2 separate regions of the Homo sapiens genome follow, and region 2 is linked to region 1. A link means that fine-mapping ties the variant in region 1 to the expression of a gene that starts in the linked region. Tissue or cell type: monocytes after Pam3CSK4. Region 1 holds a variant in brackets; the other region holds the start of a gene. All regions are shown on one strand. Distances are from middle to middle.

Region 1 (15,702 bases):
GGAAGGAGGGCCACTGTTCTGCTCCGTGGTTGTTAAAACCAGGAAATGCTTCCATCCTGGCCAGCAAACAGCCACTTAACTCCCCTCCTCCAGGCCCCTCCAGATCGCCTGAGGTCCAGCCACTAAAGGGTTAAGTGGCAGGACTTGGTGGCTCACGCCTGTAATCCCAGCACTTTGGGAGACGGAGGTGGGAAGATCTCTTGAGCCCAGAAGTTTGAGACCAGCCTGGCCAACGTGGTGAAACCCCGTCTCTACTAAAAAATACAAAAATTAAGCTGGGCACGGTGGCTCACACCTGTAATCCCAGCACTTTGGGAGGCTGAGGCGGGCAGATCATGAGATCAAGAGATCAAGACCATCCTGGCCAACATGGTGAAACCCCATCTCTACTAAAAATATAAAAATTAGCTGGGCTTGGTGTCCTGTGCCGGTATAGTCATGGCTACTTAGGAGACTGAGGCAGGAGCATCACTTGAACCTGGGAGGCAGGGGTTGCAGCGAGCCAAGATCTCGCTACTGTGCTCCAGCCTGGGTGACAGAACGATACTCCATCTCAAAAGAAAAAAAAAAAAGTGTTTGGGATCAGCCTGGGCAATGTAGCAAGACCCCCATCTCTACAAAATAAAAAAAATTAGCCAAGTGTGGTGGTGCACAGCTACTCAGGAGGCTGAGGTGGGAGAATTGCTTGAACCCAGGTGGTCGAGGCTACAGTGAGCCATGATCACACCAGTGCACTCCAGCCTGGGCAACAGAGCAAGACCTCATCCCCCCAAAAATAAATAAAAATTTAAAAAGAAAGGGTTAAATAAAGCTCACCCTAGCCAGGGGACCTCAGTGTTTCCTGATTGGTTGGTGCCCCTGCAATGCCAGTTTTAAGTGTCACCTCTACCTTTAGCAAGGGAATAGGCAAAGGGCCAGGCAAGCTCGGAGGAGGGAGAAATGACTTAAGTGGGAGGTCAGGGAAGGCTTCCTGGAGGAGGGGGGCACTGAAGGATTTTTACATGTAGGGACATTAGGGAGGGTACTGGAGGGGAAGGGCACAGCAACAGCACATGGCAGGCACCTATGAGGAACAAATGAAGGCCGCCTGGACTCCAACAGAGGGGAGGGGAGGGGATGGGAGGCTGGGCATGGTGGCTCACACCTATAATCCCAACACTGTGGGAGGCTGAGTTGGGTGGATCACTTGAGGTCAGGAGTTCGAAACCAGCCTGGCCAATGTGGCAAAACCCCATCTCTACTAAAAATACAAAAATTAGCCAGACGTGCACCAGCCTGGTACAAGTCCCAACTACTAAGGAGGCTGAGGCAGGAGAATCATTTGAACCTGGGAGGCGGAGTTTGCAGTGAGCTGAGATGGTGCCACTGCACTCCATCCTGGGCGACAGACAAAGCGAGACTCTGCCTCAAAAAAAAAAAAAAAAAAAAAAAGGTTGGGGAGGAGAGTGAGGGCCAGGCCCATGTCCCAGGGGCCTGCTGACCTACCCCCCTGGCCCGCCCCTCGCAGGTGCTGGGCCTGTCACAGGGCAGCGTGAGCGACATGCTGTCCCGGCCGAAGCCATGGAGCAAGCTGACGCAGAAGGGGCGGGAGCCCTTCATCCGCATGCAGCTGTGGCTCTCTGACCAGCTCGGCCAGGCAGTGGGCCAGCAGCCTGGTGCCTCCCAGGGTGAGTGCGGGCAGGAGCATCTCAGGGGGTGCTGGCAAACTTCCCACCTGCGCAGTGGCATGTCCGCCTGGCTTTACTGCCCGAGTCTACCTATCTCTCCCTCCCTGCTGCCCTGGCTTTCATCCCAGTCACTGTCATGGCTGCACTGGAACATGGCGGGGGGTCCTGGGGTTTCTCTGCTCCCCTTTCTTCCTTCCTCCAACCAGAGGGAGGCTTCTAGAAGCTGCACGCCTGATGCACTGGGTCCTGGCTTTAAGCCTCCAAGTGGCTCCATGGTGCTCAGAGCAGGTGGAGAATGTGTTTTGCATGTGGAGTCCCACATCTGGAATTGCTCATCGATCTCAGCTCTGTTTCCTGAAGACCTAGCGTGCAGCCTCAGACTCCTTCTTAGCACAGGGCCTTGGGCAGTGCCACCCAGCTGCCCATGATAGCACGAGCAGGCTGGAGTGTCAGCTTTGCCCGGGTGAGGAAACGGAGGCTCAGAGGGATGCCCAAAGTCCCAGAGTCCGGAAGTGCTAGGGGGAGCCCCAGCTCCCTGCCACTGTGGGGACCAGCGGATAAGTCTGCCAGGGCCCTGGTGAGGCACCTACCCGGGCCCTGCACTGGAATGAGGGCACGTGACTGCAAGGAGAGGACATCAGACCTGCCCACTGAGAAGGGCAGAGACCAGGGGAGGCCAGACCCTGAGTCCAAGGATCTGAGCTCAGTCTTGTCAATAGGACAAAACCATATCTCAGGTTCACAGAAACGAGCCAGGTCAGCAGGCCCATATCAACAGGAATATGGACTGGAAACATAATGTCAAGTGACAAAAGCCTCCATCCCAGTGACAGTGCTTACTATAGAAGCTAACACCTACAGGATGAGACTGCACACTGGTGTAGCTGTATGGCTGCAGACTTATGCATTAATATTTAAAAAGAGGCTGAGGACAGGCATGGGGGCTCACGCCTGTAATCCCAGCACTTTGGGAGGCTGAGGCTGGAGGATCTCTTGAAGCCAGGAGTTCAAGATCAGCCTGGGCAATAGAGGGAGACCGTGTCTCTACAAAATATAAAAATAATCAGTTGGAATGGTACGTACCTGTGGTCCCAGCTACTCGGGAGGCTGAGGCAGGAGGATCACTTGAGCTGTGATCATCCCACTGCACTCCGGCTTGGGTGACAGAGTAAGACCTTGTCTCAGAAAAAAGGAGGCCGAGCACAGTGGCTCACGCCTGTAATCCCAATACTTTGGGAGGTGAAGGCAGGAGGATCTCTTGAAGCCTGGAGTTTGAAATCAGCCTTGGCAACATGGCGAAACCTCATCTCTACAAATAAAAAATTAGCCGGGTATGGTAGCATGTGCCTGTAAGGGTGAGGCAGGAGGATCGCTTAAGCCCAGAAGTTCGAGGCTGCAGTGAGCTATGATCATGCCACTGCAGTGCATCTCACACTGCACTGGGCAAGTGAGACCATCTCTAAAAGAATTAATAAAATGAAATGTATAGGCCGGGTGTGATGGCTCACACCTGTAATCCCAGCACTTTGGGAGGCCAAGGCGGGCGGATCACAAAGTCAGGAGTTCGAGACCAGTCTGGCCAACATGGTGAAACCCCGTCTCTACTAAAAATACAAAAAATTAGCTGGAAATGGTGGCGTGCACATGTAATCTTAGCTGCTTAGGAGACTGAAGCGGGAGAATCACATGACCTGGGAGGCAGAGGTTGCAGTTGAACTGAGATCCTCACCATTGCGCTCCAGCCTGGGCAACAGTGTGAGACTCTGTCTCAAAAAAAAAAAAAAAAGAAAGAAAGAAATGCATAAGGAGGCAGCCCCCCAGCTGGGGAGGGAGGTTGCACTGGGCAGGGAGGGGGCCAGGAAGAGGCAGGGCGTGGTGACTTTGCTCTGCTCCTTTCCTATTCTTTTTTTTGTTTTGTTTTGTTTTTGTTTTTGTTTTGAGACAGAGTCTTGCTCTGTTGCCCAGGCTGGAGTGCAATGGCATGATCTCGGCTCACTGCAACCTCTGCCTCCCGGGTTCAAGCGATTCTCCTGCCTCAGCCTCCCGAGTAGCTGGGGTTACAGGCGTGCGCCACCATGCCCAGCTAATTTTGTATTGTTAGTAGAGACGGGGTTTCTCCATGTTGGTCAGGCTGGTCTTGAACTCCTGACCTCAGGTGATCCACCCACCTTGGCCTCCCAAGGTGCTGGGATTACAGGCGTGAGCCACAGCACCTGGCCCTTTCCTGTTTCTTTAAAACAAGAAGGAAGATTGGAAGTGACGGGGGTGAAGTGTCAGCATCGATTACGGTGATGGGTGGAAGGGAGGGGAGGACTTACATATTGTTGTCTGTATATTTCTATATGTTTTTAATAGTTTATAAATACAATGATTTAAAAACTCCTCTCCATAAGGCTGTAACGAGGATTAAAAGCAGCCATGCTGGCCGGGTGGGGTGCCTCATGCCTGTAATCCCAGCACTTTGGGAGGCTGAGGCAGGCGGATCACAAGGTCAGGAGATTGAGACCATCCTGGCTAACTCGGTGAAACCCGTCTCTACTAAAATTACAAAAAAAAAAAAAAAATTATCCGGGCGTGGTGGCAGGCGCCTGTAGTCCCAGCTACTCAGGAGGCTGAGGCAGGAGAATGGTGTGAATCCGGGAGGCGGAGCTTGCAATGAGCCGAGATCCTGTCACTGCACTCCAGCCTGGGCGACAGAGCGAGACTCCGTCTCAAAAGAAAAAAAAAAAAGCAGCCATGCTAATGCTAATGACCGCTGCCACTTACCACACATAGCACCAAGTGGTCAAAGTGCTTTGTCCTGTAATCTTCATGTCAGTCTCCACCAAAGGGACTGTTTATCATTTCCATTTCACAGATGAGGAAATCCAGGGGCATGGTAGTGCAGTGACTTGCCCAAGGCCATCATCCAGTGAGTGGCAGACCTAGGATGAGCACCCTGGGCTGTGGGCCATCAGGCTTCCTGCCCCCTAGGGTCCCGAAATGTGTCTACCCCAGAGCCTACCTGGGAAAAGACTTCCATCCTTTTTTGTTTATAGTGTTGTGGTGGGGAGGGGTGGGTTTTGTTTATAGTGTTGTGGTGGGGGAGGGGTGGGTTTTGTTTATAGTGTTGTGGTGGGGGAGGGGTGGGTTTGTTTATAGTGTTGTGTTGGGGGAGGGGTGGGTTTTGTTTATAGTGTTGTGGTGGGGGAGGGGTGGGTTTTGTTTATAGTGTGGTGGGGGAGGGGTGGGTTTTGTTTATAGTGTTGTGTTGGGGGAGGGGTGGGTTTTGTTTATAGTGTTGTGTTGGGGGAGGGGTGGGTTTTGTTTATAGTGTGTTGGGGGAGGGGTGGGTTTTGTTTATAGTGTGTTGGGGGAGGGGTGGGTTTTGTTTATAGTGTTGTGGTGGGGGAGGGGTGGGTTTTGTTTATAGTGTTGGGGTGGGGGAGGGGTGGGTTTTGTTTATAGTGTTGTGGTGGGGGAGGGGTGGGTTTTGTTTATAGTGTTGGGGTGGGGGAGGGGTGGGTTTTGTTTATAGTGTTGGGGTGGGGGAGGGGTGGGTTTGTTTATAGTGTTGTGATGGGGAGGGGTTGGTTTTGTTTATAGTGTTGTGGTGGGGGAGGGGTGGGTTTGTTTATAGTGTTGTGGTGGGGGAGGGGTGGGTTTTGTTTATAGTGTTGTGGTGGGGGAGGGGTGGGTTTTGTTTATAGTGTTGTGTTGGGGGAGGGGTTGGTTTTGTTTATAGTGTTGTGGTGGGGGAGGGGTGGGTTTTGTTTATAGTGTTGTGGTGGGGGAGGGGTGGGTTTTGTTTATAGTGTTGTGGGGGAGGGGTGGGTTTTGTTTATAGTGTTGTGTTGGGGGAGGGGTGGGTTTTGTTTATAGTCTTGTGGTGGGGTAGGGGTTGGTTTTGTTTTATAGTGTTGTGGTGATGGAGGGGGTTGGTTTTTGGTTTTTTGAGACATAGTCTCACTCTGTCACCCAGGCTGGAGTGGTGAGCCACTGCGCCTGGTCTGTGGTGTTAGGTTTTAACTAACTTTTTTACTGTAGTAAAATTCACATAACAGCTGGGCACCGTGGCTCACACCTGTAATCCCAGCACTTTGGGAGGCCGAGGCGGGCCGATCACTTGAGCCCAGGAATTTGAGACCAGCCTGGCCAACATGGAGAAATCCCGTCTCTCCTAAAAGTACAAAAATTAGCCGGGTGTGGTAGCACGCATCTGTAATCCCAGCTACTCGGGAGGCTAAGGCGAGAGGATCGCTTGAACCCAGGAAGCAGAGGTTGCAGTGAGCCGGATGGCACCACTGCACTGCAGCCTGGGTGACAGAGTGAGACTCTGTCTCAAACAAAGAAACAAACAAACAAAAATCACATAACGTAAAATGTACCTTTTAAACCATTTTTGAAGTATACAATTCAGTGGATCTAATACATGCACAATGCGTGTGACCATCACCTCTGTCTAATTCCAGAATATTCCCACCGCCCCAAAAAGGAACCCCATACCCATCCAGCAGTCATTGCCCATCCTCCTTCCCCCCAGCTCCTGGAATTCCGCTTTCTTTCTGTCTGGATTTGCCTCTTCTGAATGTTTCATATAGATGGAATCCTGTACTACTTGGCCTTCTGTGGCTGGCTTCTTTCAGTTAACGTGTTTTCAAGGCTCATACAGGCTGTAGTATGCATCAGAATTTCCTTCCTTTTTTATGGCTAAATGATATTCCATTGTATGGATAGACCCCATTTTGACTATTTTGAATAATGCGCCTATGAAAATTTGTGTACATATTTGTGTTTGAACCCCCATTTTCAGTTCTTCGAACATATATCTAGGAGTACAGTTGGCTAGATCATATGGTAACTCTTGTGTTTAACTTACTGAGGAAGTTCAAAGGGTTTCTGTTTCTCCAGGTCCTTACCAACATGGGTTATCTCCCATTTGTTGACGCTAGCCATCCTGGTGGGTGTGTAAGTGGTATTTCACTGTAGTTTTTATTTGCATTTCCCCAATGTCTGATTGTTTTGGTTGTAGATTTTATTGTCATGGAAGGATTTGACCACAGGTAGGATAGAGGTAAGCAGAGAAGATGGAGAATGGTGCTCCTTGTGGAAGGAATGGCACAGGCAGCGGCTAGGAGGTGGGACCATGCACGGCCTGGGAAGGGATGTGAGTAGAGGTGGCGGGGTCCCCTGCTCTCCCAGAATAGGAAGCCAAGGCTAGGCACAGTGCGTCACACCTGTAGTCCCAGGACTTTGGGAGGCTAAAGCAGGCGGATCACTTGAGGTCAGGAGTTTGAGACCAGCCTGACCAACATGGCAAAACCCCTTCTGTACAAAATTACAAAAATACAAAAATCAGCTGGGCATGGTGGCAGGTGCCTGTAGTCCCAGCTACTCAGGAGGCTGAGGTATGAGGATGCTTGAGCCTAGGAGGTCAAGGCTGCAGTGAACTGGAGTGAGTGCCTTCCAGTCTGGACAATAGAGCGAGACCCTGTCTCAAAAACAATAATAATAATGATGAGGGAATCAGGCCTGGAGGTGGCTACTGTAGCTGCTGGCCCTAGGGAGAGAGTGGTGATGGCAGAGCCACCCTCACAGCCTCTGCTTGTTCATAACCCACTGGGCCTGGAAGCAAAAGGGTGTATCCATTGCCCACAAAGTCCCACAGAGTCTGGCTGTGGGGCTGGGTGTCAGGACCTGTCCAAGCCCCGCTTGTGTATGCCCTGGCCACTGGGGCGGGCAGGGACCGGCACTGGAACCCTGACCATACCTGTTACTGAAGTTGAGCCAGATGCCACGGGAGGGTTATAAAGCACGCCCTTATCCCCACGTCCACTGCCAGGCGCAGCCCCGGGTATAATCGGCGCTACCTACCGTGGCAGCATCAGTATTCCAGACCCTTCCATCCGAGGTTTCTCAGAATTCTCAAGCAGTCAAGGAAGCCCTGTCCTGTCCCCATACACAGTCCCTGTCTTCCCTCTGTCTCTCTCCTGATCTCTGTCTCTCTCCTCCAATTTCTTTTGTGTGTGTGTGTGTGTGTGTGTGTGTGTGTGTGTGTGTGACAGAGTCTCACTCTGTCGCCCAGGCTGGAGTGCAATGGTGTGATCTCGGCTCACTGTAACCTCCGGCTCCTGGGTTCAAGCAATTCTCCTGCCTCAGTCTCCGAAGTAGCTGGGATTACAGGCACCCAACTAATTTTTTGTATTTTTAGAAGAGACAGGTTTTGCCATGTTGGCCAGGCTGGTCTTGAACTCCTGACCTCAGGTGATCCACCCACCTTGGCCTCCCAAAGTGCTGGGATTACAGGCATGAGCTACTGCACCCAGTCACCTCCATTGTCTTCTTTCTGTTTTTCTCACTCTGCATTTTTTTGATTCACCTATCTCTCTCTCTCTCTCTCTCTCTCTCTCTCTCTCCCCCTCTCTCCCTCTCTCCCTCTCCCTCTCCTCCCCCCACCCCACTCTCTCTCTCCCCCTGCCTCTCTCACCATCTCTCTCCCCCTCTGTTTGCTCTGTCTCTTCCTCCCTGACCCTCCCTGTCCCTCCAGTGCTCTCTTTTCATCTCTCTTGCACCATCCTTATCTCTCCAGGAGAGAGAGATTTCCCAGGATCTGGAACTTTCTGTAGTAAAATAAGGAAAGTCGCGGGCAGACTGGGATGGGTTGGTCACTCTGCTCTCTCTCCTGTCCCCAGCTGCCCACAGCCCTGTCTGGCACCCCACCCACAAGCCCAGCAAGGCAAGAAGACCCTGCCTCTCCCTGTCGTCGCCTCCCTCTCCAAATAACCCAGTTGTTCACATGTGACTCCCCCAGCCCTGTAATTAGCACAGTCTTCCTGATAGAGATAATTTCTGAATCTTTCCATCACTTCGTCAGAAGCGATTCTCAGTCAGAGGAGTCAGAAAGGCGGGGTTCTCCCTGGGGGAGTGGGATTGGGGGGTGGCTGTGTTCTTTCCTGCCAATCATCTCCATGTCATCCTGTTCGCTTCGCTTCTTGGCCCTCTAGGTTGGGACATGGGTGCAGATAGTTTTCCAAGAGGGAGATGCCTTCAAAGACCCTCAGTTTTTTGTGTTTTTTGTTTGTTTGTTTGTTTTCGAGGTGGAGTCTTGTTCTTTCACCTAGGCTGGAGTGCAGTGGCGCAATCCCGGCTCACTGCGACCTCTGCCTCCCAGGTTCAACCAATTCTCCTGCCTCAGCCTCCAGAGTAGCTGGGGCTACAGGTGTGTGCAAACACACCTGGCTAATTTTTTGTATTTTTAGTAGAGATGGGGTTTCACCATGTTGGCCAGGCTGGTCTCGAACCCCTGACCTCAGGTGATCCACCCGCGTTGGCCTTCCAAAGTGCAGGGATTACAGGCGTGAGCCACCATGCCCGGCCCAAAGACCGTCAGTTTTCCAGCTGGCCCCAGCCCCTCTCCTGCTGCCGACAGTGGGCAGACACCTAGGACAGACTCTCACTTTCCCAGACTGGCCCTCCCACACCAACATGGCATCAGTGTTGGTAACAGTGAGCCTGGAACATGCCCAC[G/A]TCAGCCTTGGCATCACATGGATGCTACCTGAATGGCCAGGATCAGCTCACTTGGGGCTGGGGGCACAGTAGACTTCTTGAGACCTCACGGTCACAAAGGGCCATGATGCTGCTACTTCGAACTCGGGGGCTTCACCTTGCCCTCTTCAGGAGTACTCAGGGATCCTGGCTGAAATTACTCCATAGGCATCTGCCCAGAGCCCCTGCCCCACCCCCAGGCTCTGGGGACTCACCTGTGACTAACTTGTAGTCCTTGCCTTCAAGGGGCTCACAGTTGGTAGATGAGAGGACAGTGTTGGGCATAACCCAACCCCAGCTCAAGTCCTGACTTTGCCATTTATTGCTGTGTGATCTTGGACACGTTGTCTAACCTCTCTGAACCTCGGTTTCCTCACCCATAAAATGGGATGACATAGCACTTACCTCTTAGAGGTGTCATGAGGGTCACTTGAGATCATGAGCATTGGCCAGCCACAGTGACCCATGCCTGTAATCCCAACACTTTGGGAGGCCGAGGCAGGAGGATGACTTGAGCCCAGGAGTTTGATACCAGCCTGGGCCACATAGTGAAACCCTATCTCTATTTAAAAATACATATACATATATATATATATATATATATATATATATATATATATATATATATATATATATATATATATATAAAGAGAGAGGGATCATAGGCATAAAGCACATAATACTACACTGGGCATGTAGTAAGTACTCAATAAAGGGAATTTATTAACATCATCATCATTGTCATCAGTAAGGAAGAGATCTGGCCCAAGCAAGAAATTATAGCAAACTGTGACAATATATATTCAAGGTGCTATTAGACCCCAAAAGTCTAATAGACCTCAGGGAAGGGACATTTAGGACTGGATCTTGAGGAATGCATAGGAGTTCAAGATTAGAAGGAAAGTCCTCAGGATGGCAAGACCAGCCTGAGCAAAGACATAGGGGCTTAGAGAGGAGCCTAGATGTTTGTGAAGGGGAGTGAGGGAAATGCTGTAGCTCCAGTTGGCAGGGACAAGGGAGTTCAGAGCCTTAATCACCAAGACAAGGTGATAGACATTTCTTGCACAAGGGGCAATGGGGAGCCATTGATGATTCTGGAGCATAGGAGTGGTCTGATCCGAGTGACCAACTCACCCACGACAGAGAAGGAAGGAACCCATCCTGGGCTCAGGATGTCTCTTCTGAAAGTAAAGCCGTTGCTCCCTTTTCTTCCAGCTGTCATACATTTTAATGGTTATTTTAACAAGTTTCCAGCAGGTGGCAGTTGAATGCCTCAAGGAAGAGGCATCTTTTTCTAATGTGCTGGGATTAGGTGTGGCCAGTGCTGGGATTCCTAGACCCCACACCATGCTTGCCAACCCATTAGGGGTGCCTCCCTGGGGATGCTCCCACCTTTCCTGGTTTCTCAGGAGGCTCAGCTCACACTGGGACTCCCATGGGTGCCTCTAATGCCCCAGGAGGTGGAGGTGGTAGAGGAGGTGGAGGTGGACCCTTGCCCCACGTTATCTCATGGAGGTCTCTCGATGGCCCCAAGTAGTATGTATAATGCTACGTGTCTTATGGCCCCATTTAACAGATGGAAGGACGGAGGCTTGGCAAAGTCATCCACCCGAGATCACAAGCCCCAGATATCTTTCAAATCATTTTTCCAATATATAGTCACACAAAATGTCTTTTGAAAAATGAAAAATGGGCCCGGCATGGTAGTTCAAGCCTGTAATCCCAGTACTTTGGGGGCGCCGAGGAGGGTGGATCACTTGAGGTCAGGAATTCAAGACCAGCCTGGCCAATATGGCGAAACCCCATCTCTACTAACAATACAAAAGTTAGCCGGGTGTGGTGGCAAACGCTTGTAATCCCAGCTATGGGGGAGGCTGAGGCAGGAGAATCACTTGAACCCAGGAGGCTAGGTTGCAGTGCGCCAAGATCATGCCACTGCACTCCAGCCTGGGCGACAGAGTGAGTGAGACTCCATCTCCAAAAAAAAAGAAAAATGAAAAATGTAGTTTAAAAATCTGTCTACCTTTTTTTTTTTTTTTTTTTTTGGAAACAGAGTCTTGCTCTATTGCCCAGGCTGGAGTGCAGTGGTGTGATCTCGGCTCTCTGCGAGCTCCGCCTCCCAGGTTCAAGCGATTCTGCTGCCTCAGCCTCCCGAGTAGCTGGGATTACAGGCATGTGCCACCATGCCCAGCTAATTTTTGTATTTTTTAGTAGAGACGGGGTTTCACCATTTGGCCAGGCTGGTCTCCAACTCCTGACCTTAGGTGATCCTCCCACCTTGGCCTCCCAAATTGCTGGGATTATGGGCATGAGCCACTGCACCCGGCCCCAATCTAGCTTTTTAATGTGGCATTGCACCATGGACATCTTTTCATTACATTTTCTTTCATTGCCTCGGAAGAGCCCACTGCAGGGATCCCCCATATTTTATTCAGCCAATCTCCTGTGGTTGAACTTGTAGATCATTGCTGGATCATTGCTGACTTCTTTAGTTGTTGCCGTTTATTTAACTTTTCGTTTTGAGGTAACTTCTAATTTACAGAAAAATTGAAACAGTAGAACAGCAAACTCCCTGCACTGTACCCAGTTTGAACAGTTATTAATTTTGCCATAATCGTGCTCTTTCTCTGCCATTTGAGGAATTCATTGACATCTTGTCCCTTTAGCCCTAAATGCTTCAACAAGTGCTTTCCAAAAACAAGAAATTTTACAGTGGTAAAATACTGGCATGTATCCCACCATCTATATTCAGGTTTCTTCAGTTGTCCCAATAATATCCTTTATGAGCTATATAAATTTTTAGATACAATATATAAATCTTGGCCAGGTGCTGTGGCTCACGCCTGCAATACCAGCACTTTGGGAGGCTAAGGCAGGTAGATCACTTGAGGTCAGGAGTTTGAGACCAGCCTGGCCAACATGGTGGAACCCCGTCTCTACTAAGAATACAAAAAATTAGCCGGGTGTGGTGGCATGCACCTATAATCCCAGTGACTTAGGAGGCTGAGGCACAAGAATCTCTTGAACCCGTGAGGTGGAGGTTGCAGTGAGCCAAGATCATGCCACTGCACTTCAGCCTGGGTGAAGTTTTTTGAGACAGAGTGAAACTCTTGTCTCAAAAAAAGAAAAGTGAGCCAGGCATGATGATGCACACCTGTGGTCCGAGCTGCTTGGGAGGCTAAGGTGGAAGGATCACTTGAGCCCAGGAGGTCGAGGTTGCAGTGAGTTATCACCAAGCCACTGCACTCCATCCTGGGCAACACAGCAAGACCCTGTCTCAAAATGAATTAATTAAATAAAATATGTAAATTTCTTTTCCCTGTGCAGGATGAGATTCAAGATCACTTGTGTTTAGTTTTCATGTTTTGATTTCGACAGTTCTGCCTTTCTTTGTTTTCCAGTGTTGCCCTTTCTGAAGAGTAGAGGCTGTTATTTCCTGGACAGTCTGAGTTTGGTTGCCTGATGTTCCCTTGAAATCAGATTCGGGCTGTGTACTTGGGGCTGGGAATATCACAGAAGTGATGCCATGTCCTTCTCAGGCCATCCTCTCAGGAGGCCCATGTTGCTGACTTGCCCTGTGATTGGTGATAGTAACTTGGATCATTGGTTAAGATGGTATCCACCAGTGCCTGTAATCCCAGCTAGTCAGGAGGCTGACGCAGGAGAATCGCTTGAACCCGGGAAAGAGGTTGCAGTGAGCCGAGATCGCACCACTGCACTCCAGCCTGGGTGACAGAGAGAGTCCAACCAGGTCTCTGTACTGTAAAGTGGCTACTTTTCCCTTTGTAATTACTAAGCATCGGCCAGGTGTGGTGGCTCATGTCTGTAATCCCAGCACTTTGGGAGGCTGAGGCGGGTGGATCATGAGGTCAGGAGATTGAGACCATCCTGGCTAACATGGTGAAACCCCGTCTCTACTAAAGATACAAAAAATTAGCAGGGCGTAGTGGCGCATGCCTGTAGTCCCAGCTACTTGGGAGGCTGAGGCAGGAGAATCGCTTGAACCCGGGAGGCGGAGGTTGCAGTGAGCCGAGATCACACCACTGCACTCCAGCCTAGGCAACAGAGCGAGACTCCGTCTTAAAAAAAAAAAAAAAATTGCTAAGCATCATGTGGGGAGATACTTGGAGACTTTGTAGAAATCCCAGTCCAGTCCTCATCAAACTTTCATCCACTAGTTTTAGCATCCAGGGTGGTCCCTACCTGAGCGATTATTACTACAGTGGTTGCAAAATGGGTGTTTGGCAACTCTTGGCTGTAAGAAGCAAGCCTCCCGAAAGTGGATGTGTCTGTGCCAGATTATAGTAACCACCTTCTCTTTCTCTGTGGCCCACAGCCAGTCCCACAGAACCAAGGTCCTCACCATCCCCACCCCCCAGCCCCACAGAGCCTGAGAAGAGCTCCCAGGAGCCGTTGAGCCTGTCCCTGGAGAGCAGCAAGGAGAACCAGCAGCCAGAGGGCCGCTCCAGCTCCTCGTTGAGCGGGAAGATGTACTCAGGCAGCCAGGCCCCAGGGGGCATCCAGGAGATCGTGGCCATGTCCCCCGAGCTGGACACGTACTCCATCACCAAGAGGGTGAAGGAGGTCCTCACAGACAACAATCTAGGTACGGAGCGGGTGGGAATCGGAGAGGCTGCCTCCCACCTGGGTTGGCTCCTACTTGCCTTGAAAAGGTGTCTGGAGCTGGGACCCAGTGGCTCATACCTGTAATTCCAGTGCTTTGGGAGGCCAGGGAGGGAGGATCGCTTGAGGCCAGGAGTTTGAGGCCAACCTGGGCAGCATAGCAAGATCTCATATCTTAAAAAAGCTTTTTAAAATTAGCTGAAAACTCCATGCATACAAACTTCACACGTGTTGGTGCATGCCTGTAGTCCTAGCAACTCAGGAGCCTGAGGCAGGAGAATCGCGTGAGCCCAGGAGTTCAAGGCTGCAGTGAGCTATGATCATGCCACTGCATGCCAGCCTGGGCAACAGAGCAAGACCTTGTCTATAAAATAAATTAATGGCTGTGCATGGTGGCTCACACCTGTAATCCCAGCATTTTGGGAGGCCCAGGCAGGTGGATCATCTGAGGTCAGCAGTTCGAGACCAGCCTGGCCAACATGGTGAAACCTCGTCTCTACTAAAAATACAAAAAAATTAACCAGGCGTGGTGGCACATGCCTGTAGTCCCAGCTACTTGGGAGGCTGAGGCAGGAGAATCGCTTGAACCTGGGAGGCAGAGGTTGCAGTGAGCCGAGATCACACCACTGCACTCTAGCCAAGGCGACAGAGCGAGACCTCATCTCAAAAAAAAAATCAGTCAATCAGTAAAATAAAAAACAAGCTGGGCCCGGTGCCTCACGCCTGTAACCTCAGCACTTTGGGAGGCCAAGGCAGGCGAATCACCTCAGGTCAGGAGTTCCAGATCAGCCTGGCCAACATGGTGAAACCCCATCTCTACTAAAAATACAAAAAGTAGCCGGGTGTGGTGGCATGCACTTGGAATCCCAGCAACTCAGGAGGCTGAGGAGAATCGTTTGAATCCAGGAGGTGGAGGTTGCAGTGAGCCGAGATTGTACCACTGCACTCCAGCCTGGGCAACACAGTGAGACTCCATCTCCAAAAAAATAAAAAATAAAAAAGCTTCCTAAAATTAGCTGCAAACTTCATGCAAACAAACTTCACACATTGTGGTGAATGCCTATAGTCCTCAGGAAGCTGAGGCAGGAGGCCTGCACGAGCCCAGGAATTCAAGGCTGCAGTGAGCTATGATCATGCCATTGCACTCCAGCCTGGACGACAGAGGAAGACCTTGTCTCTAAAAAAGTTAAATTAAAAAAAAAAAAAGACAAAAGTGCCCACGGTGAGATCCCAGGGCACTGGAGTCAGCCCCAGGGCATCCAGGACCCTGTGTGAGGCATCTGGCTCTGACCTGGGTCTGGGATAGGACAAAGTGAATGCAGGTCTGAGAGGACCTGGAATTCTCAGCCCACGGCTTTAAAAACTTCCTTCCAGGAAGACGTGGAGAACCCCAGTCACTGCGGAACTCCAGCTCAGTCCTCACCCGGTGCTGAAGTCTTTGCCCTCTTGGGCCACAGTGGAAAAATCTCTTCTAGGGCTCTTTCCCTTTTTGGGACACAAATTCCTCTGAGTCTTAAATGCGGGTGATGCCCCCCTACCAGAGGGATGTATGCAAACCCCAACATTTTCACTACAATTCCTGTTATAAAAATAAGACATATTCATTGTTTTAAGGTATACCGAAAAGTACAGGAAAAAAAAAGTTACTAAAAAAGTAAATAAATCCCTCCCCATTGGCCTCTCAGACACTTCAGTGTTGTGTGTGTGTGTGTGTGTGTGTGTGTGTGTGTGTTTAAGATGGAGTCTCCTGTCACCCAGGCCCCAGGCTGGAGTGCAGTCGTACGATCTCAGCTCACTGCAACCTCCGCCTCCCAGGTTCAAGTGATTCTCCTGCCTCAGCCACCCTAGTAGCAGGGATTACAGGCCTGAGCCACCACTCCTGGCTAAT
Region 2 (15,702 bases), 43 kb after region 1:
TATGCGCCCACAACTCCTAAGAAGCAGAGACAGGACTGGAACCTGGGTCTCACGGGCCTCCCCAGACAGCCTCATAACCTCCTACCCTCCTGTATCCCTGAAATAATGTTGTGAGTTCCTGCTGCATGCCAGACATTTCAGAGGAATGAACTCACTTTATCTCACAATAGACCTTAGGTCACAGGGACTGGCCTGGCACCAGTGCAACAGATGAGGAAACAGAGGCACAGAGAGGTTAACTGCTTCCCTGGTGTCACAAAGCAGGTTGGGCAGGGCTGAAATCCAAACCCAGGCCTCATTTCAGGCGCTGCTGTTTCCATCATCCCAAGAACAAGACCAGCTGGCCTTCTGCAGTCCCTGCCAGGTCCCAGCCCTGACTTTGTGGTTCGACTTTGGTTTGTTCATCCATGAAATGGATGAGCAGAACCAACTTTGGAGAGTTGTAGAGATTGATTTCATTCATAAAATGTTTATTAAGCATCTACTGGGTGCCAGGCATTGTTCCAGGCCTAGGGATATAGCAATAACAAGATGGACAGGGTCGTCCAGCCTGGCCAACACAGTGAAACCCCTTCTCTACTAAAAATACAAAAAATAAGCCAGGCGTGGTGGCGGGCGCCTGTAATCCCAGCTACTCGGGAGGCTGAGGCAGGAGAATCACCTAAACCCAGGAGGCGGAGGTTGCAGTGAGCCGAGATTATGCCATTGCACTCCAGCCCGGGCAATAATGTGACACTCTGTCTCAAAAAAAAAAAAAAAGATGGACACGGTCCCTGCCCTCGTGGTGTTGAAATGCCACTGGCAAGTGAAAGGGAGCAGACAGTTAACAAACAGATAAGACGTCTGCCAGGTAGTCTCATGTTCTATGGAAAATAGTAAGACAGGGGCTGGGCACAGTGGCTCACGCCTGTAATCCCAGCACTTTGGAAGGCCAAGGCCAATCCTTCTCACCTGAGGTCAGGAGTTCGAGACCAGCCTGGCCAACATGGCAAAACCCCATCTCTACTAAAAAACAGCCAGGTGAGGTGGTGCACGCCCATAATCCCAGCTACTTGGGAGACTGAGGCAGAAGAATCGCTTGAACCCAAGAGGCGGAGGTTGCAGTGAGCCAAGACTGCGCCATTGCAGTCCAGCCTGGGCGACAGAGCAAGACTCCATCTCAAAAAAAAAAAAAAAATAGCCAGGCATGGTGGGGGGTGCCTATAATCCCAGGTACTTGGGAGGCTGAGGCAGGAGAAGTGCTTGAACCCAGGAGACAGAAGTTGCAGTCAGCCGAGATTGCACTACTACACTCCAGCCTGGGGACAGAGCCAGACTCCGTCTCAAAAAAAAAGAAAGAATTTGGGGAAAGATGCAGGCCCAGGGCTAGGCTGACTTACAGGAAGGAGGGGCAGGGGGTCGACCCGTGCCATTTAGCATAGAGGACTCTAACTCCATGCCATCGGCCACAGTGACCCCATCCACCTTCCCCCAAGGAGTATATGATGGGGCAACGCTGGCCAGGAAGGACTTGTCGGGAGGTGGCATCTGCGTCCCTGGCCTGGCCACCTTCCCTTGGGGTTTTCCATGGCCATTTTGAGAGCCTGCCTTATCTCCCACTGCAGAGCCTCAGCCTGCATAGGATGGTAGCTACATTTTTCAAGAAGCAAAGGATATAAAGTCCTGGTACGCAGTAGGCACTCAGTGTTCATTCCCCTGCCTGGGTGGTGTCTTTCTCAGAGCCTGGTGGAATGAGGTCAGGGTGGTGGCTCTCCTGGGAGCAGGTGACCGCAGTGAGGCCCTGCCAGACTACCTGTCCTAGGGTGGAGGGGGTTGTCCTTGCCACCTCCTGTCAGCCACATAGGCAGTCAGGGAAGGCTTCCTAGAAGACGGAACATGAGTTGTGACTTAGAAACTGAGATCAACCAACCCAAATGCCCATCAATGATAGACTGAATAAAGGAAATGTGGTACATACACACCATGGAAAACTATCCAGCCATAAAAAGGAATGAGATCATGTCCTTTGCGGGGAAATAGATGGAGCTGGAAGCCATCATCCTCAGCAAACTAACACAGGAACAGAAAACCAAATACCGCATGTTCTTACTCATAAGTGGGAGTTGAACAATGAGACACATGGACACAGGGAGGGGCAGAACACATATCGGGGCCTGTTGGGGGATCGGGGGTGAGGGGAGGGAACTTAGAGAACGGGTCAATGGTGCAGCAAGCCACCATGGCACACGTATACCTATGTGACAAGCCTGCATGTTCTGCACATGTATCATGGAACTTAAAATAAAAAAAGAAACTGAGGTCAGTTTGTCCTGACCTAGTGGGAGGCCAAGGCCAGAGCCCCCAAAGTCTCCAGGTGTTGAATCCCCACCCTGCCTCTCAGCTACAGCTGTCCCTCTCTAAGCCGCAGGGATTCACGCATTCCCCACACCACCACCCATCAACTCCCATGTGGATGCTGGCCCCGGTTCTCACAGGACCCTCCCGCCCTGCTTGCCCAGTTCCGCTCCTACCTCTCAGGCCACCACTTGCCTCCCTGCCCTCTGCTCAGCTCCAGCCTCAGCTCGCTCTTCTCTGGATTCAAATGTCAGCTCTGCAGCATCTGGGCTGGGGGACCCCAGGCAGGCTATTCATCTCTCTGGGCCTCTGTTTCTGCATCTGTAAAATGGGATCGTAACAGTGCCTAAGTCAGGGCTGTTGTGACAATGATACAGTGACTATATGGACTTTGCGGAGCATGGGGCCAGGCACACAGTGCCTGCTGAGCGCGGTTGCAGTTCACATTTTTCTTGGCTTTTCCCCAAACATCCCTGTGTTGTGCTTCCGATCTCAGCAAATGGCCCTTGGTTTCCCTCTCACCCCCGCATCTGATCGCACATCAAGTCCAGTTGATCCCCCTCTCCAGCGTCTTCCAAATCAGTTGCCTAATCTGTCCACTCCACCTCCCCATTCTAGGCCCCATCACCATTCACTGGGATGGCTGCTGTAGCCTCCTCATAAGTCTCCTTGCCCCTCCCTGTCCATGTTCCTCAAGGTAAGATCCAAGCCTCCTTCCTAAGCTCTTCTCCGAGCCACACTGAAATCCACTTCCCACAGATGGATCCTGTGAAAATTAAGTCCAATCACACTCCTCCTCTGCTCTAAACCCTCCCATGGCTCCCTACTTCTCTCAGCATAAAATTAAATCCTTAGGCAGGGTGCGGTGGCTCACACCTGTAATGCTGGCACTTTGGGAGGCTGAGGGGGTAGGATTGCTTGAGTTAGAGACCAGCCTGGACAACATAGCAAGACCCTATCTCTATAAAAAATAGAAAAAAAAATAGCTGGGCATGGTGATACAAGCCTCTAGTCCTAGCTATCTGGGAGGCTAACATGGAAGGACCCCTTGAACTTGGGGGGTGACATAGTGAGATTCTGTCTCAAAAAAAAAAAAAAAAAAATCCAAGCCTCCCTTGGCTTCCAAGTTCCCTTTCCCTACCTCTTTCCCCCTTGTTCACTCAGCTCCAGCCATCCTGGCCTCCTTTCTGTTCCTCAAATACACCAGACACATCCCCACCTCCAAGACTTGGTCCCGGCTGTCTGCCTGCAGGTCTTCACAAGGCCAGCTCCCCATCCTTTGGTCTCAGCCTAGCTGTCACCTCCTCAGAGAGGTGGTCCCTGGCCACCCTATGCACAAGAGGCCCCCCAGTCCCTCTCCTGTGCCTCCACCTGAAATTAATACCTGGGTCATTTCTGCCTGCAGGGGCGTTTGTGGTCTGAATTCTAGTGCCTGGCATGCAGTAGGTACTCACACAGCTGTTTGATTCATTCTGCAGTATCTTCTGAAACCTTTCAACAGCCCCAAGACAAGGGATCTCACCCCACATTCACAGATGTGGAAATGGACACAGGGAGATTCAATAAGTTGGCTAGAGGCATACAACTGTGCCCAGAATCACATGCTCCAGGCAAGCCACCCAAATAAAGGGGCTGATCTTGGGGTCTCTCCACCCCATCAAGGCCAAAGGAATAGCAACTTCCCTCCTGCTCAGCAACCCTCCTCCCCCGACTGCCTAGATAGAGGCCAAACTGGTTCAAGGTCACCAGCAGGCACAGGACCCAGCTCTGCCCATGACCCCTGCCTCCACCAGAACTGGGAAGACAGGAAGCTGCAGGGGCACAGGCGCCAGCCTTGCCTGGAGCGAAGGCCTGGCCCCTGCCTTATCTCCCCACACTGTTTTCCAAGAAGTTCAGAGTCCACTGTGGGCACTGCTGCTGATTCAACAGCCCATGGCCAGACAGGAAGCTGGAGGGAGCCTGGCCCAGCTCTGCTCCCAAGGCAAAGTTCCTGCCTCCGCAGGTCCAGGCTGGAGGACCTTGGACAAGTCGTTTCACCTTTCCAAGTCTCAGTGTCCTCATCTGTTAAATTGGGCTGTGTGGCGAGGGTTCATGAGCTAAAAGAAGGAAAACCCACTGGCAAACTATGGGAAATGGATTGCAAATATTAGCTGCTGTGAGTCGGAGTTTTTTCTCAGCCTCATCTGCAAAATGGTGACGTTAACTTCCATCCCTCTAAGGGCTGAGTGAATTGACTCCTGAAGAGTCATTTTGCAAAATACTTGGTGGGTAGTGAGCTTTCAGGGAAAGAGCTGTCAAAAAGGCAAATAATTCATCCAAGATCTCCAGGGGCACAGCTGGCCCCGGAACCCAGGTCTCCTGGGAGACTGAAGCATGGCATTTTGGCACTCACATCAACGAAAAGAAGCCAGTACCGCAGGTCCTGGGGTTGAATCCAGCTGCCCTCAGTGTCCCCCAGCAGCGGGCGTGGGGAAGAGGGTGTGGCAGGCACAGGCTGAAAAACATGTGTGCCAAGAACACTAAAGAGCAGCCTGGCCGTCACCGCCCCAGCAGGGACCCCAGAGACACGCCAGCACCGCCGTCCAGACACAGGCAGCCCCCTTGTCCACGGCAGGGGCTGCTGCTCCAGGTGTGGCCCTGCTCCCGGCTGCTCTCTGTCCCTTTGTGTGTTGTGCGTGGGAGCTCTCTTAAGTTCCTTAAAGGACAGCCAGAGCCCCAGATGGGTGATCAGCGGCAGAATGGGGGGCTTATCCGCAGTCCCCACCAGCGGCAGACGTCCCTATGGGCTGAGAGAGGGGAGGGTGGTCATTGGCCAAGTTCGCCTCGGCAGCTGGAGAAGTCACCACTGGTGCGGAGTCCCAGCGGGGAAGATCCCCGCAACGCGCTCTCCAGGTGGCCGGGGGACCCCGAGGCCCAGGGCGGCCCGACCCGGGTCCCATGTCCTCGTGCATGTCCCCCCGCCAGGCCCGCCTTACCTCGCAGCGCAGGCCTAGGGCGGCGACGGGACGGGAGGCGCGAGGTTGCGGGGTGGCCCGGCCATGGTTCGGGACTGGCCCGGTGGCGGCGACGGCGGCGGCAGCGCTTTGTCTCCTGGGCGGCCGGGCCGGCGCAGCCGCGGGAGAGCGCGGATCCGACGGAAGGAGGCGGGAGCAACCGGACAGTCCGCGACCCACGGGCGCGCCCCTTTAACCCTTCCCAGCCTGCTCGCGCCGGGCCCGCCCCCGCGTTCTTCCCACCTCCCGATTGGCAGGCCCCGAACCGGCACGCCCCCGTGAGCCCGCCCTCGAAATCACTCTTAAAGGGTCCGCTCCTGGCTCGCGACTCCCCAGTTCCCTAGCCCAGAAAAGCGGATTGGAGCCCGGGAAGCTCATTGCGATTCCAAAGGTAAGGACTGGCCCAGGTCGTGGATTAGCCTGCAAAAGCATTTGGGGGTCCTGGGCGGGCCATTCGCTGAAGTCCTAGGCTTAAGTCCGAACTCCCCCCAGGACGAGGCAGGAGGATTGCCTGAGCCTAGTAGTTCAAGACCAGCCTGGGCAGCAGAGGGAGACCACCATCTCTACAAATAATAAAAATATTTGCTAAACCTGGGTTGCCAGGTTTAGCAAATTTAATGCCCAGTTAAATTAGAAAAATAGCTCTAATTCCTGAAAAATGTGTGAGTGGCAGAAAAAACAGCTGAATCCAGGACATTTGCGTACAGCACTGTTCCATACGGACAGGGCGCCTCGCAAGCTTCCCCTGGCTCCAGGTGAAGAGAGGAAGTTCTGGAATTAGGCAGACTTGAGTTCGAGTCGCACTAGGCCACTGAACACTGTGTGAGCTTAGAGAAATCATTTCACTTCTCTAAGCCTCCGTTTCCTCATCCGGAAAATAAAGACCATCATGATATGTAAAGTGCACGGCACAACAGAAAGCTCTCAAGAAATAGGAATTGCTGTTGTTTTTGCCCTGCCCACCTCCTTGAACCCTTCCTTCCTGTTCCTGCCGCCTCTTCTCCACCACCCGCCACCTCCCAATCACTATTAAGTCCTGGCCTGAAAGCAGGAAGAACAGGACAGACCAGGGTCAGCTCTCCATTGTACAGCCTCTCACTAAGCGCCTACTGTGTGCCAGGCACTGTACCTGAACCAGGTAAGCAGGTGCAGCCAGGAATCAAGACAACACAAATGAGTTCTGGAAGTGATTCATGCTAGGACTGTACGCTAAGGCAATGGGGCAGAAAGCCTGGGAGTGCAGTTTTTTTGTTTTTGTTTTTTGTTTTTTGTGTTTTTTTGTCACCCAGGTTGGGGTGCAGTGGCACAATCACAGCTCATTGTAACCTGAACTCCTGGGTTCAACCGAGCCTCCCACCTCAGCCTCCCAAGTAGTTGGGACTACAGGTGTGTACCACCACACCCGGCTAATTTTTTTTAATTTTTTGTAGAGATCGGGGGGGTCTTGCTATCTTGCCCAAGCTGGAAGTGCAGCTTTTAGACAAGGTGGTCAGGGAAGGCCTCTCTGAGGACAGACCTGGAGGAATGAGGGAGGGAGCCATGTGGTTATCTGGGAGAAGGAGGTCCCAGGCAGAGGGAACAGCAAGTGCAAAAGCCCTGAAATGGGGCCATCCTGGGCATGTTTGAAGAACAACGAGGAGACCAGTGGAGCCAAGTGAGCAATGGGAAGAATAGTAGGAAAATAGGTCAGCTGGCTGGGCGCAGTGGCTCACGCCTATAATCCCAGCACTTTGGGAGGCCGAGGCAGGTAGATCACTTGAGGTCAGGAGTTCGAGACCAGCCTAGCCAACATGGTGAAACCCGGTCTCTACTAAAAATACAAAAAAAAAAAAAAAAAAAAATTAGCCAGGCATGGTGGTGTACACCTGTAATCCCAGTTACTTGGGAGGCTGAGACAGGAGAATCACTTGAACCCAGGAGGCAGAGGTTGCAATGAGCTGAGATTGCACCACTGCACTCCAGCCTGGGTGACAGAGCAAGACTCTGTCAAACAAAAAAAAAACAAAAACAAAAAAAAAAACACAATAGATCAGAGATTATTGGCAAAGCCAGAAAGCCAGGTGACCTAGGGGCTTAAGGACCAGAGGAAAGATTTTGCTTTTACTCTAAGAAGAATGAGGAGCCATGGGAGGGTTTTGAGCAGAGGAGGGACATGGTCTGTGTTAGATTTAACATGGTCCCTGACTGCTATGGGCAGGGAATGATAGTAGAAGCCAGGCGATCAGGGAGAACACTACTGCAGTAGTCCAAGCAAGTGATGGTGGTGGCTTAGAGTGGAGCAGTGGAGGTGGAGAGAAGTGGTTAAGTATAGATATATATTTAATGGATATATGTATTAGTCCGTTTTCACACTGCTGATAAAGACATACCCGAAACTGAGAACAAAAAGAGGTTTAATTGGACTTACAGTTCCACATGGCTGAGGAGGCCTTGGAATCATGGCGGGAGGTGAAAGACACTTCTTACATGGCAGTGGCAAGAGAAAGTGAGGAAGAAACAAAAGCGGAAACCCCTGATAAACCCTTCAGATCTCGTGAGACTTATTCACTATTATAAGAATAGCGTAGGAAAGACTGGCCCCCATGACTCAATGACCTCCTCTTGGGTCCCACTCACAACACGTGGGAATTCTGGGAGATACAAATCAAGTTCAGATTTTGGTGGGGACACAGCCAAACCATATCATTTTGCCCCGGCCCCTCCAAATCTCACGTCCTCACATTTCAAAACCAATCATGCCTTCCCAACAGTCCCCCAAAGTCTTAGCTAATTTCAGAATTAACCCAAAATTCCACAGTCCAAAGTCTTGTCTGAGACAAGGCAAGTCCCTTCTGCCTATGAGCCTGTAAAATCAAAAGCAAGCTAGTTACTTCCTAGATACAGTGGGGATGCAGGTATTGGGTAAATACAGCCGTTCCAAATGGGGGAAATTGGCCAAAACAAAGGGGTTACAGGGCCCATGCAAGTCTGAAATCCAGTGGGGCAGTCAAATTTTAAAGCTCCAAAATGATCTCCTTTGACTCCGGGTCTCACATCCAGGTCACGCTGATGCAAGAGATGGGTTCCCATGATCTTGGGCAGCTCCACTCCTGTGGCTTTGCAGGGTACAGGCTTCCTCCTGGCTGCTTTCACGGGCTGGTGGTGAGTATCTGTGGCTTTTCCAGGCACACAGTGCAAGCTGTCAGTGGATCTACCATTTCAGAGTCTGGAGGATGGTGGCCCTCTTCTCACAGCTCCACTAGGCAGTACCCCAGTAGGGACTCTGTGTGGGGGCTCTGAACCCCACATTTCCCTTCTGCACCACCCTAGCAGAGGTTCTCCATGAGGGCCCTGCCCCTGCAGCAAACTTTTGCCTGGGCATCCAGGCATTTCCAAACATCTTCTGAAATCTAGGCAGAGGTTCCCAAACCTGAATTCTTGACTTCTGTGCACCCACAGGCTCAACACCACATGGAAGCTGCCAAGGCTTGGGGCTTCCACCCTCTGAAACCACAGCCTGAGCTCTGTGTTGGTGCCTTTCAGCCATGGCTGGAGCAGCTGGGACACAGAACACCAACTCCCTAGGATGCACACAGCACAGGAACCCAGGGCCTGGCCCACAAAACCACTTTTTCCTCCTGGACCTCTGGACCTGTGATGGAAGGGGCTGCCAGGAAGTTCTCTGACATGGCCTGGAGACATTTCCTCCATGGTCTTGGGGATTAACATTAGGCTCCTTGCTACGTAATGCAAATTTCTGCAGCCGGCTTGAATTTCTCCCCAGAAAATGGGCTTTTCTTTCTATTACAATTTACTTCTTATTTTTTTCTTTTCTTTTCTTTTTTTTTTTTTTTTTTTTTTTTTGAGACAGAGTCTTGCTCTGTTGCCCAGGCTGGAGTGCAGTGGTGTGATCTCAGCTCACTGCAACCTCCGCCTCCTGGGTTCAAGCGGTTCTTCTGTCTCAGCCTCCTGAGTAGCTGGCACCAGGTGCACGCCATTGCACATGGCTAATTTTTTGTATTTTTGGTAGAGATAGGGTTTCACCATGTTGGTCAGGCTGGTCTTGAACTCCTGACCTCAGGTAATCTGCCCACCTTGGCTTCCCAAAGTGCTGAGATTACAGGCTTGAGCCACCGCTCCCAGCCTGCAAGTTACCTCTTGAATGCTTTGCTGCTTAGAAATTTCTTCTACCAGATACCCTAAATCATCTCTCTCAAGTTCAAAGTTCCACAGATCTCTAGGGCAGGGGCAAAATGCCGCCAGTCTCTTTGCTAAAACATAACAAGAGTCACCTCTGCTCCAGTTCCCAACAAGTTCCACATCTCCATCTGAGACCACCTCAGCCTGAATTTTATTGTCCATATCACTATCAGCATTTTGGCAAAGCCATTCAACAAGTCTCTAGGAAGCTTGAAACATTCCCACATTTTCCTGTCTTCTTCTGAGCCCTCCAAACTGTTCCAACCTCTGCCTGTTACAGTTTCAAAGTCACTTCCACATTTTTGCCTATCTTTTCAGCAACACTCCACTCCTGGTACCAATTTACTGTATTCATCCATTTTTGCACTGCTGACAATGACATACCCAAAACTGGGAACAAAAAGAGATTTTTTGGGTTTTTTTGTTTTTGTTTGAGATGGAGTCTTACTCTGTCACCCAGGCTGGAGTGCAGTGGTGCAGTCTCAGCTCACTGCAACCTCCGCCTCCTGGGTTCAAGCAATTTTCCTGCCTCAGCCCCCTGAGTAGCTGGGATTACAGCTGCCACCACGCCTGGCTAATTTTTTGTATTTTTAGTAGAGGTGGAGTTTCACCATGTTGGCCAGGCTGGTCTCGAACTCCTGACCTCTTTTTTTTTTTAAATACTTTAAGTTCTACAGTACATGTGCACAACGTGCAGGTTCGTTACATATGTATACATGTGCCATGTTGGTGTGCTGCACCCATTAACTCGTCATTTACATTAGGTACATCTCCTAATGCTATCCCTCCCCCCTCCCCCCACCCCACGACAGGCCCCGGTGTGTGATGTTCCCCATCCTGTGTCCAAGTGTCGAACTCCTGACCTCTTGATCTGCCCTCCTCAGCCTCCCAAAGTGCTGGGATTACAGGCGTGAGCCACTGCGCCCGGCCAAAAAGAGGTTTAATTGGATTTACAGTTCCACGTGGCTGCGGAGGCCTCAGAGTCATGGCGGGAGGTGAAAGGCACTTCCTACATGGTGGCGGCAGGAGAAAATGAGGAAGAAGCAAAAGCAGAAACCCCTGATAAACCCATCAGATCTCATGAAACTTATTCACTCTCATGAGAATTACACGGGAAAGACCAGCCCCCATGATTCGATGACCTCCCCCAGGGTCCCTCCCACAACACATGGGAATTCTGGGAGATACAATTCAAGTTGAGATTTCAGTGGGGACACAGCCAAACCACATTAATATATATTTAAGATATATGTAAAATTTGATGATAGGTTGCATGTGGGGAATGAGAGAGAGACAGAGAGAGAGGAAGGAAGAAAAGGAGTTAAGAATAACTCCAGGGGCCGGGCACAGTGGTTCACGCCTGTAATCCCAGTACTTTGGGAGGCCAAGGTGGGTGGATCACGAGGTCAGGAGTTTGAGATCAGCCTGGCCAAGATGGTGAAACCCCGTCTCTACTAAAAATACAAAAAAAATTAGCCAGGCGTGGTAGTGGGTGCCTGTAATCCCAGCTACTCGAGAGACTGAGGCAGAGAATTGCTTAAACCCGGGAGGCAGAGGATGCAGTGAGCTGAGGTCACCCCACTGCACTCCAGCCCGGGCGACAGAGCAAAACTCTGTCTCAAAAAACAAAAAAAAAGAAAAGAAGAAAAAGAACTCCAGGGCCAGGTATGCTGGCTTACATCTGTAATCCCCGCACTTTGGGAAGCCGAGGCAGGAGGATCACTTGAGCCTGGGAGTTTGAGACCAGCTTGGGCAACACAGGGAGACCCCATCTCTACAAATGATAAAAATATTACCCAGGGCTGGACACAGTGGCTCACACCAGCAATCCCAGAACTTTGGGAGGCCAAGGTGGGTGGAGACCTCGTCTCTACAAAAAATAAAAAATAAAAATAAAAAGGACTCTCAACTTTTGGACCTAAGTAATGGGAAAAATGGAGATTCGAAGGGAAAAATCCAGATTAGTCTTTTCATCAAATTGAGCTGGAATAACTGGATATTCATATAGAAAAAAACAGCCTTGATACTTACCTCATGCCATACATAAAAATTAACTCAAAATACATCAAACTCTTGCACATAAAAGCTAAACTCTAAAATCTCTAGAAGAAAATAGGGGCTGCCAGGCACAATGGCTCATGCCTGTAATCTCAGCACTTTGGGAGGCCAAACAAAGTGCGAGGATCGCCTGAGTTAGTGACCAGCCTGGGCAAAATAGTAAGAACCCATCTCTTAAAAAATTGTTTTTTAATTAGCTGGGTGTGGTGGCGCATGCCTGTAGTCCCAGCTACTCAGGAACCTGAGGCAGGAGGATCGCTTGAGCCCAGGAGGTCAAGGCCGCAGTGAACTAGGATCACGCCACTGCACCCCAGCCTGAACGACAGAGTGAGACCCTGTCTCCAAAAAATAAGTAAATAAGGTCGGGCACGATGGCTCACACCTGCAATCCCAGCATTTTGGGAGGCCGAGGCGGGCAGATCATGAGGTCAGGAGTTTGAGACCAGCCTGGCCAACAAGGTGAAACCTCATCTCTACTAAAGATACAAAAAATTGGGCCGGGCATGGTGGCTCATGCCTGTAATCCCAGCACTTTGGGAGGCCGAGGCGGGTGGATCACCTGAGGTCAGGAGTTCGAGACCAGCCTTACCAATATGGTGAAACCCTGGCTCTATTAAAAATAAAAATAATTAGCCGGGTGTGGTGGCGTGTGCCTGTAGTCCCAGCTACTTGGGAGGCTGAGGCAGGAGAATTGCTTGAACCCTGGAGGTGGAGGTTGCAGTAGCTGAGATTGCACCACTGCACTCCAGCCTGGACGACAGAGCGAGACTCTGTCTCAAAAAAAAAAAAAAAATACACAAAATTAGCCAGGCATGGTGGCACATGCCTGTAATCCCAGCTACTCGGGAGGCTGAGGCAGGAGAATCACTTGTACCCGGGAGGTGGAGGTTGCACCAAGCCAAGATCGCGCCATTGCACTCCAGCCTGGGCCACAGGGCAAGACTCTACCTCAAAAAAAAAAAAAAAGGAACTAAAAATAATAAAATAGAAAATCTTTACAACTTTAGGATAAAGATTTCTTAAGACTCAAAGAGCATAAACTAGAAAAAAATAAAAATTGGACTTCAGTAGGTTGGGGGGTTTTTTTTGTTTTGTTTTTTTGAGACAGGATTTTGCCCTGTTGTCCAGGCCGGAGTGCAATCTCAGCTCACTGCAACCTCCATCTCCTGGGTTCAAGCATTTCTTCTGCCTCAGCCTCCCAAGTAGCTGGGACTACAGGTGTGTGCCACCATGCCTGGCTAATTTTTGTGTTTTTAGTAGAGACAGAGTTTTGCCATGTTGGCCATGCTGGTCTCGAACTCCTGACCTCAGGTGATCTGCCGGCCTCACCCTCCCAAAGTGCTGGGGTTATAGGTGTGAGCCACTGCACCCGGCCCATATTGACTTTAAAAAAGATAAAGGTTGTTTTTAAAACCTGTTTAAAAAGAGAGAGAGAGGGAGGGAGGGAGGGACGGAGGGAGGAAGGAAAAGGGAAAGGAAAAGGAAAAGGAAAGGAAAGGAAAGATACCATCAGAGAAACAAAAAGATAAGCCACCAACTAACTGAGAAAAAAAATTTTCTTGATATATATATCTGACAGAATCTGAATGCCAGATCTATATAATGAAGTCTTACAACCCAATAATAAGATAAGCAACCCAATCTAAAGACAGGCAAAAGATGTGTGTGTGTGTGTGTTTGAGACAGGGTTTGGTCCTGTTGCCCAGGCTACAGTTCAATGGCATGATCTCCGCTCACGACAACCTCTGCTTCCCAGGCTCAAACCATCCTCCCATCTCAGCCTCCCAAGTAGCTGGGACTACAGGCGCGCGCCACCATGCCTGGCTAATTTTTTTTTTTTTTTTTTTTTTTTTGTATTTTTGGTAGAGATGGAGTTTCACCATGTTGCCCAGGCTGGTCTCGAACTCCTACACTCAAGCAATCCTCCCACCTGGGCCTCCTGAAGTGCTGGGATTACAGGCATGAGCCACCATGCCTGGCCCAGGCAAAAGATGTTAACAGATATTTTATAAAAAGCTGTAATATGGGCCAGGTGTGGTGGCTCACGCCTGTAATCCCAGCACTTTGGGAGGCCGACGTGGGTGGATCACAAGGTCAGGAGATTGAGAATATCCTGGCTAACCTGGTGAAAACCCGTCTCTACTAAAAATACAAAAAATTAGCTGGGCATGGTGGCGTGCGCCTGTAGTCCCAGCTACTTGGGAGGCTGAGGCAGGAGAATGGCGTGAACCCAGGAGGCAGAGCTTGCAGTGAGCCAAGATTGTGCCACTGCACTCCAGCCTGGGCGACACAGAGTGAGACTCTGTCTCAAAAAAAAAAAAGCTATAATATGATATACTGGCTAATAAGCAATGAAAAGATGCCCAGTGTCATTACACATCAGAGAAATGCAAATTGAAACCAAATGAGCTAATACCATGTTCCAATTAGAAAGGCCAAAATTAAAAAGACTGACAACACCAAGTGCTGGTGAGGATGTGGAACAACTGAACTTCCATACTGCTGATGGGAAGGTAGAATGGTATAGCCACTCTGGAAAACAAATTGGCAATTTCTTGTAAAAATGAACAGAAACTCTGCCAGGCAAGGTGGCTCATGCCTGTAATCCCAGCACTGTGGGAGGCTGAGGTGGGCGGATTCACCTGAGGTCAGGAGTTTGAAACCAGCGTGGTCAACATGGTGAAACCCCATCTCTACTAAAAATACAAAAGTTTGCTGGGCGTGATGGTGGGCGCCTGTAATCCCAGCTACTTGGGAGGCTGAGGCAGGAGAATCGTTTGAACCTTGGAGGTGGAGGTTGCAGTGAGCCGAGATCGCACCACTGCACTCCAGCCTGGGTGACAGAGCAAGACTCTGTCTCAAAAAAAAAATAAAAAGGCCGGGTGCAGTAGCTCACGCCTGTAATCCCAGCAGTTTGGGAGGCCAAGACGAGTGGATCGCCTGAGGTCAGGATCAAGACCAGCCTGACCAATACGGCGAAACCCCATCTCTACTAAAAATACAAAAATTAGGCAGGCGTGGTGGCATGCGCCTGTTGTCCCAGCTACTCCGGAGCCTGAGGCTTGTTTGAACCTGGGAGGCAGAGGTTGCAGTGAGCCAAGATTGCACCACTGCACTCCAGCCTGGGTGACAGAGCAAGAGTCTGTCTCAAAAAAAAAAAAAAAAAGAAAAAAAAAAAAAAGAACAGAAACTCGCCATGTACAACCCAGTAATCCCACTCCAAAGTATTTACCAAAGAGAAATGAAAACATGACCACACAAAGACCTGTATGTGACTATTCATAGCAACTTTATTCAGAAACACCAGAAACTAGCAACAACTCAAATATTCATCCACAGATATATGGAGAAACAAATTGTGGTACATCCATTTGATGGAATAGTGCTTAGCCATGAAAAGAAATAAAGTTTCCATTGACATTAAATAACCAGGAGAGCCAGCCACAATGGCTCATGCCTATAATCCCAGCACTTTGGGAGGCCGAGGCGGGCGGATCACCTGAGGTCAGGAGATTGAGACCAGCCTGGCCAACATGGTGAAACCTCGCCTCTGCTAAAAATACAAAAATTAGTTGGGTGTTGTGGCGTGTGCCTGTAGTCCCAGCTACTCGGGAGGCTGAGGCAGGAGAATCGCTTGAACCCAGGAGGTGGAGGTTGCAGTGAGCCAAGATTGTGCCACTGCACTCAAGACTGGGTGACAAAGGGAGACTCTGTCTCAAAACAAAACAAAACAAATAACCAGGAGAGAGAAATCCAAAGAGCAAGAAATATTTGTGGTTGCCCAGGGTTGGTAGGTAAGGAATAACTGCCAACCAGCATGAGGTTTCCATTTGCGGGGATGAAAAAGTTCTGGAACTAGATAGTGATGATGGTTGCCCAACAAAGTGAATGTACTTAATGCCATTGAATTGTACAGTTTAGCAGTTTAGAATGGTTAAAATCAGAGGTGTGGGGTGTGTGTGTGTGTGTGTGTGTGTGTGTGTGTGTGTGTGTGTGTTTGTCAGACACCAAACCAGATCCAGGATAAAATGGTAAGTTTTATGTTACCTGTACTTTTCCACAATTAAAAAAAGGAAAGAGGCTGGGCACAGTGGCTCACATCTATAATCCCAGCACTTTGGGAGCCCAAGGCAGGAGG

Direction of the effects. Alleles are on the strand shown, and positions count from the first base shown. SD is a standard deviation of normalised expression in the study named.
As copies of A replace G in region 1, the expression in monocytes after Pam3CSK4 of the gene that starts at base 5,493 in region 2 goes up (moderate effect, 0.60 SD a copy in Quach 2016).

Evidence for each region. PIP is the estimated chance that this variant, and not a neighbour inherited with it, causes the effect.
Region 2: it holds the start of PHETA1, and the variant in region 1 is fine-mapped to the expression of PHETA1 in monocytes after Pam3CSK4 (Quach 2016, PIP 0.95).

What each region holds. Positions count from the first base shown.
Region 1 is chr12:111,320,914-111,336,615 of GRCh38, forward strand. It overlaps CUX2 (cut like homeobox 2), which reads left to right. Exons shown (of 22, transcript NM_015267.4): 18 at 1,508-1,667; 19 at 13,528-13,797. Among named protein-coding and RNA genes, the nearest start is that of MIR6760, 25 kb to the left of the region's middle. The variant G/A (reference allele first, on the strand shown) is at 9,174.
Region 2 is chr12:111,363,603-111,379,304 of GRCh38, forward strand. PHETA1 (PH domain containing endocytic trafficking adaptor 1) reads right to left here and starts at 5,493. Exons shown (of 3, transcript NM_144671.6): 1 at 5,310-5,493; 2 at 2,511-2,655. LINC02356 (long intergenic non-protein coding RNA 2356) reads left to right here and starts at 5,659. Exons shown (of 4, transcript NR_187522.1): 1 at 5,659-5,718; 2 at 8,367-8,468. RefSeq lists a silencer at 5,084-5,663.